2 linked regions of the Homo sapiens genome follow. The protein of the gene in region 1 purifies or fractionates together with the protein of each later gene. This does not show direct contact. Each region holds a gene or a part of one and is shown in the gene's direction. Other genes may lie near its edges. The genes, in order: BBS12 and BBS4.

Region 1 (3,822 bases):
CAAGGAAGGATTCTTCCCTTGATCCTTCAGAAGGAGCATGGACCTGCCAGCATTTTGATTTTGGGCTTCTAGACTCCAGAACTGTGAAAGAATAAATAAGTATTGTTTTAAGCTACCCAGTTGTTTGTGGTAATTTGGTATGGCAGCCCTAGGAAGCTGATGCAGTGAGGATGTGGAGAAATCAAAACCCTCATACATTGTTGGTGGGAATGTTCAGCTGTTATGGAAAACAGACAGTTCATTCAAAAGTTAAAGATATTTGCTCCTCCTTTTCATGCCTGTGGCTGGATGTCCCACAGCACTATAGGAAATGTGAGTCAGGCCTTTTGCATTAAGCAACCAAGAACTACAGACTCCACCTTTTCACCCAAATCATGAATGACCAGTGAAAAGCAACTTATTTCAGAGGAAGAAGCAGCCCTTGAAATGTTAAGGCTTGGGCTTGAAAGTTGAAGAGCAGGAATTCTCTCTTTCAAAGACCCTAGAGCACAAACCTTTGTGTGGCCAAGTGGGATCAGCCCTCAAGGGCACATGCCAAGGACAGAGCAGCCCATGTAGACAGCTTCGGAGGGTATGGGGATGTGGGGAGTTAGGGGTAGCTCCTCATTAACTATTTGTTGGGTGAGTATAAGGGCGAAGCTCAGTGGCAGTCAGCCACCTCTGCAATGACAAGCTGTCTCTCCCCTACATGTTTAGCATATATTATTAGAACACGTCCCATGCCCCCGCTCCCTTTAAGGCCAAGTAGAGAAATCTGGCAATAAAAGGCAAATGTGAGCATGCTTTCTCTAAGATGCATCATAAATGGTTTTCTTTAAGTGAATGAAGACTTTGACAGAGAAATATCTTTGTAAGCAAACATTAAGAATGCTGGCTGGGTGTGGTGGCTCATGCCTGTAATCCCAGCACTTTGGGAGGCCTAGGCAGGAGGATCGCTTGAGCCTGGTACTTCAAGACCAGACTGGGCAGCATGGCGAAATCCCATCTCTACAAAAAAAATAGAAAAATTAGCCGGGTATGGTGGCATGCACTTGTAGTCCCAGTTACTTGGGAGGCTGAGGTGGGAGAATCACCTAAGCCCAGGAGGTCGAGGCTGCAGTGAGCCATGCCACTGCACTCCAGTCTAGGTGACAGAGCGAGACCCTGTCTAAAAAATAAAAATAAAAAGAATGCTAATCATTTCTGAGTTCGCTGTGACTTGTAATACTGGGGATCTCCCTTGTAACACTGGAACTGAAAGACTGACGAAAGCTATGTCAAGCATTCATTATTCTGAAGAGGAGGAGAAATGCCACATACCTTTCCCATTGAACCTGTGGTGGAATAAATCCATGGTTGTGTCTTGCTTTGAACAGACTTTTGTTCTGAGCACTGCTCACGATGGATTTTTATGCTTCATTTTCATATCTCTCTGCACAATTAGATTGGGAGTTCCTTGAGGGCAGAGTATGTATAATCTTTGTCTTTGTAATCCCGGCAATTAACACAGTGCCTCCTGGTACATTGTAGGTGCTTAAGAAATACTCACTAAATGCATGAATGAATGAAACGAAGGAATGACTAGGAATGTTTGTAGTGCTATAATATATAATGGGATATACTCCAGTCTGGTACTTGTCTAGTCAGTCCTCTACGGTGTTATCAGAGTGGTAATATATCCAAAACATTACAATTATTATTGTTATTAAAACAAGAACTCATAAAACATGGTGCCAGACATTGTTCTAAGTACTATATTCACTCCTTATAATGACTATGAAATAGCTTCTATTATTATCCCTGTTTTTTAGATGTGGAAATTAAGGGATAAAGTACATAACTTGCTGAGGGCTATATAGCTAGTAAAGCGGTAGGATTAAGTTCACACCCAGACTTCTAGGTTTAGAGTACATGTTTTCAAACACTACATCAAGTTGTTTCTTGATCTTTTTTATTAAAAACATTTTAACGGTTCCCATTACAGGATCAAGTTTAAGTTACTTGCTATGGCACATAATGCCCTTCGTAAACCAGCTCATTTCCTCTTCTAGAGCTTCATCTGCTACTGTTCTCCACTACATGTTTTTTTTTGTTGTTGTTGTTTTTTCTGAGACTGAGTCTTGCTCTGTTGCCCAGGCTGGAGTGCAGTGGCGCCATCTTGGCTCACTGCAACCTCCGCCTCCTGGGTTCAAGCGATTCTTCTGCCTCAGCCCCCAAAGTAGCTGGGACTACAGGTGCGTGCCACCACACCCGGCCAATTTTTGTATTTTTAGTAGAGACGAGGTTTCGCCATATTGGCCAGGCTGGTCTCGAACCCCTGACCTCGTGATCCGCCCGCCTCGGCCTCCCAAAGTGCTGGGATTATAGGCATGAGCCACTGCGCCCAGCCGCTCCACTACATTTTTTATATTCTCATAAAACCAGGCTACTTCTATTTCCCTGAATACACTATGTTTTTTTCACATATATGTACATTTACTACTACCTCCTTCAACTTGTAACTCTTTCCAGTTATTTTTCAAGACTCATTCCAAGAATTGCTTTCTTCTGGAAACGTTGCCTACAGCCCTCATGCTTCATTTCCTCTGTTGGGTGGAGTGTTTCTCTTCCATTCCCCCATACCTTTATCATTAATAGAATAATAATACTGTATCATTGCACTGACCACTTTTCATGGAAATTATATGTACCTCAAAAGCAGGGAGCATATCTTGTTTTTATTTCTATATAGCATTTATAACTATGAATTATACTGAATAAAGTTACAAGTTTTTATTTTGTTTGCAGATCATGATACATGGTGATGGCTTGCAGAGTCGTAAACAAAAGAAGACACATGGGACTTCAACAACTTTCATCATTCGCGGAAACAGGAAGAACTTTCCTAGGCCCACTAAAATCATCCAAATTTATTATAGATGAAGAATGTCATGAAAGTGTATTAATCAGTTCAACAGTAAGGCTTCTTGAAAGTTTGGATTTAACCAGTGCAGTGGGACAACTTCTCAATGAAGCAGTTCAAGCACAAAACAACACATATAGAACTGGAATCAGTACTCTTTTGTTTCTTGTTGGTGCTTGGAGCAGTGCAGTTGAAGAATGTCTTCATCTTGGTGTCCCCATTTCCATAATAGTATCAGTAATGTCAGAAGGCTTAAACTTTTGTAGTGAAGAGGTAGTTTCTCTTCATGTACCTGTTCACAATATATTTGACTGTATGGACAGCACAAAAACATTTTCTCAACTTGAAACATTTAGTGTAAGTTTGTGTCCTTTTCTACAGGTCCCTTCAGATACTGATTTGATAGAGGAATTGCATGGTCTCAAAGATGTTGCCTCTCAAACACTGACCATTTCCAACCTTTCTGGGAGACCTCTTAAATCATATGAATTATTTAAACCTCAGACAAAGGTTGAAGCAGATAACAACACATCACGAACTCTGAAAAACAGCCTGCTTGCAGATACCTGCTGCAGACAGTCAATACTAATCCACAGTAGGCATTTTAATAGGACAGATAATACTGAAGGGGTAAGCAAACCAGATGGATTTCAAGAACATGTTACAGCTACTCACAAAACTTACAGATGTAATGATTTGGTAGAGTTGGCAGTAGGCTTGAGTCATGGAGATCACAGCAGCATGAAGTTAGTAGAAGAAGCAGTACAGCTGCAATATCAGAATGCTTGTGTGCAACAAGGCAACTGTACAAAACCATTTATGTTTGACATTTCAAGAATTTTCACTTGCTGTCTACCAGGCTTACCTGAAACTTCTTCTTGTGTTTGTCCAGGATATATCACTGTTGTGTCAGTATCTAATAATCCTGTGATCAAGGAATT
Region 2 (3,822 bases), on another chromosome or scaffold:
AGGTTCTTTCTTAGGACTTTTACCCTAAGAAAGGAATCTGAATTCTAAGCCTCATTTTTCTTGCTGAGCAGTTCTCCTTATCACCAGGGTTGAGATGACCTACTTTTGATGGCAATTCCCAAATTGCCTTCAGGTATTTCCACGGGGAGGAAGAGGCTCAGTGGGGTCTGTCAAGTATTGCACGAGGGCATATTACTGTGCATGTGTCTTCGTGTTTCTCATCTACATCTTGTTTCCCTCTGAGCATCTCTATGTTGCAGGTTCTCACCAGAAAATACAGAGCTTCTTACAACTTTAGGATTACTCTACTTACAGGTAATGAAAACTCTGTACTCATTCATGCACTGATGTTAGAAATGGTTTTGGGTTTGTGTGTATGGTGGTTTTCCTGCATTCTGATATTTATTTTATTAAAGGTCATATAAAGTTCATGAACTACACTCTCTCTATTCGATACTCTTTGCTAAAGGAATTAATTTTCTGCATTTAAATTGGAAGCAATTCTATTTTAGCCTAGTGCAATTATAATTCTTATCTAGGCTGGGTGTGGTCTCATGCCTGTAATCCCAGCAATTTGGGAGGCTGAGGCTGGTGGATCACTTGAGCTCAGGAGTTGGAGACCAGCCTGGGTAACATAGTGAGACCCTGTCTCTACAAAAAATAAAAAAATTAGCCAGGCATGGTGGCATGCTTCTGTAGTCCCAGCTACTTGGGAGGCTGTGATGGGAAGATTGCTTGAACTCGGAAGGCAGAGGTTGCAGTGAGCTGAGATTGAGTCACTGCACTCCATCCTGGGTGACAGAGCCAGATCCTGTCTCAGAAAAAAAAAAAAATTCTTATGCTATCCAGGAAAGAGCATATATGAGAAATAACTCTGGTCTTGGAGGCTGTTATTTTGTTGTGAGGAGAGAAACAGATACAAGTGAGCACTTAGGGCTTTGGGGCAAAGCCATTTCTTTTGATCTTTCTTCCCAGCCAGAGTCTTATTGGAAAGAGAGAAGGCAAAGTATACTTTTATCTAGAATAAGAAGTTTTCTGTCCCCTCAACATTCCTGAATGTGAATGGGATTCTTTTAGCTCCATTGATTCTCTGGCTGAGGACCCAGGGCCCAGGTATCCAAGGGGCTTTTCCCTCTTCCCCAATATACACATTTGCCAAGTTCCTTGGTCAGCTGATTCTGCCTCCAGCCCTGCCTCTGTGGTGGCCTTTATGTCTATTTCATTTTTCTTTAAAAGGAATCAGGAGCTTAACCCTGGGTCTTCCTGGGCTTTGGCTTGGGAGGTTGGCTCCACGGGAGATGAGGATACCCAGCTCATTTCCTGCAAAGAGGCATTAATGTGGAACAGTACTAGTGTGGCAGAGATGGTTCTTATCAAATAGATACTTTGACCTTATCAGGTGACAAATTAACAAAAATAGAAGGAAAACCATGACTGGGGATTTTTAGTTTTCTTTCTTTATTATCTGGTAACTGTAGCTGCTTTTTTTTTTTTTTTTTTTTTTTTTAAAGTCAAGAGAACTCAAAAAAGCCAGAGCATTTCTGTTCTGGGTGAGGTTGGCCAGACTGTTTTTTTTTTTTTTTTTTTGGAGACGGAGTTTCACTCTTTTTGCCTAGGCTAGAGTGCAATGGCGTGATCTCGGCTCACTGCAACCTCTGCCTCCTGGGTTCAAGCGATTCTCCTGCCTCAGCCTCCCAAGTAGCTGGGATTACAGGCATGTGCCACCATGCCTGGGTAATTTTGTATTTTTAGTAGAGATGGGGTTTCTCCATGTTGGTCAGGCTGGTCTCGAACTCCTGACCTCAGGTGATCCACCCACCTTAGCCTCCCAAAGTGCTGGGATTATAGGCATTAGCCACCACGCCTGGTCTGGCCAGACTCTTTTAACTGCCGTCTCCTTGCTGATGTAAATTGTCTTGTTTGCTTTTTTTCCAAGCTCGGCATTTACCAGAAGGCATTTGAACATCTTGGCAATGCACTGACTTATGACCCTACCAACTACAAGGTATTACAGGCTGTGAAGGCTCTGGCCTTCATATAGACGGTCCCACTGCTCCTAGAGGTGATCTGACCCTGGAAAGCAAAGGAATAGCTTCTTAAATTTGGATACCTGAGAAATAGAAAAAATATAAATAAAAGGTGGCTCTTCTTATTTGAAAATAGTGTCAAGTATGCTCTACTTATCTTCTAAAAGTGCACATTTGTTATAATAGACGTGTAACCCCTGCAGAAGGCAGATCATAGTGCTAGTAAAGCTTATGTGTTACTTAGGAAATTAGCAATGCCTCCACAACTATTGTCAAAAATAAATCTGCGGCCCGGCGCGGTGGCTCACGCCTGTAATCCCAGCACTTTGGGAGGCTGAGGTGGGCAGATCACGAGGTCAGGAGATCGAGACCATCCTGGCTAACACAGTGAAACCCCGTCTCTACTAAAAATACAAAAAAATTAGCCGGGCGTGGTGGCGGGCGCCTGTAGTCCCAGCTCCTCGGGAGGCTGAGGCAGGAGAATGGCGTGAACCCGGGAGGCAGAGCTTGCAGTGAGCTGAGATCACGCGCCACTGCACTCCAGCCTGGGTGACAGAGCGAGACTCTGTCTCAAAAAAAAAAAAAATAAAAAATAAAAAAAATAAATCTGCTGGGCATGGTGGCTTATGCCTGTAATCCCAGCACTTTGGAATGCTGAGGCAGGAGGATCACTTGAGGCCAGGAGTTCAAGACCAGGCTGGGCCACATAGTGAGACCCCCATTTCTACAAAAAAAATTATCCAGGCATGGTGGCACACACCTGTAGTCCTAGCCACTCGGAAGGTGGAAGAGGGAAGATCACTTGAGCCCAGGAGTTTGAGTCTACAGTGGGCTATGATGGCACCACTATACTCCAGCCTGGGTGACAGAGACCCTGTCTCTAAAAAGAAACAATAATTATGTTGAAATGACTTCTAGAGTCCTAATGATTTGATACTACAACTTTTTTTCTAGATGTGACTTTGGGAATGAGAAGGAATAGCATCAAATGGATGAACATCATTGAGGAGATGCAGCAAGACAAGCTGTTTATTAAAGGATACAAACTGAATTCTGATTTAGGAAGTAACATTAGACTGTCAGCTCCCACCTTGATACCTTTCCTTAGAGAAATGAAAGGGCTGGGCTGATGAAGCCTAAAGCTGACTCGCCCTCTGTTCTACGGTAGAAAGAAATTTACCTTAAGTAGCCACGTACAGGTGTATTTCAGGTATCTAGAACACTTGGTATACCAAATAGGGGCTGCAGAGAACAGATTAAAGGAAGTTTTTACTTAAAGGGCTCTGGTATTCATTCTGAAATACTGACTTTCCTGGCTAGAAGTAGGAAACAGATGGGTAAAGCAAGTAACATTTTATCTTTTTTTTTTTTTTTTTTTTTTTTTTTTTTTGTGCTGTGCCAGAGAGCCACAGTGTAGAGTGCAAGGACATTCCTCAGGAACATTTGTCCCAATAGGTTGGATATATTTATGTCCCTGGAAGAAATTTTCCAGTCCCATCTATGCTGATGGGCCTGCTGAGTATAGACTCAGGAAAGCTGCCCCACTGCTACAGCCTTTTGGGAATGACTGAATGACTTTCTCTGTGCCATGTTTTCAGGCCATCTTGGCAGCAGGCAGCATGATGCAGACCCACGGGGACTTTGATGTTGCCCTCACCAAATACAGAGTTGTGGCTTGTGCTGTTCCAGAAAGTCCTCCACTCTGGAATAACATTGGAATGTGTTTCTTTGGCAAGAAGAAATATGTGGCGGTGAGTGTCCCCTCATGTTCTTTGTTTGTATTTCTACATGTGGT

What was found.
Region 2: the proteins of BBS12 (region 1) and BBS4 purify together in Homo sapiens (co-immunoprecipitation; one large-scale study listed by IntAct). This does not show direct contact.

What each region holds. Positions count from the first base shown.
Region 1 is NC_000004.12:122,739,117-122,742,938, forward strand, and holds part of BBS12 (chaperonin-containing T-complex member BBS12), read left to right. Parts: intron 1-256; exon of another isoform or gene 257-1,603; intron 1,604-2,766; 5' UTR 2,767-2,776; coding exon 2,777-3,822. UniProt on the Homo sapiens protein: Component of the chaperonin-containing T-complex (TRiC), a molecular chaperone complex that assists the folding of proteins upon ATP hydrolysis.
Region 2 is NC_000015.10:72,727,680-72,731,501, forward strand, and holds part of BBS4 (BBSome complex member BBS4), read left to right. Parts: intron 1-260; coding exon 261-315; intron 316-1,936; coding exon 1,937-2,005; intron 2,006-3,625; coding exon 3,626-3,778; intron 3,779-3,822.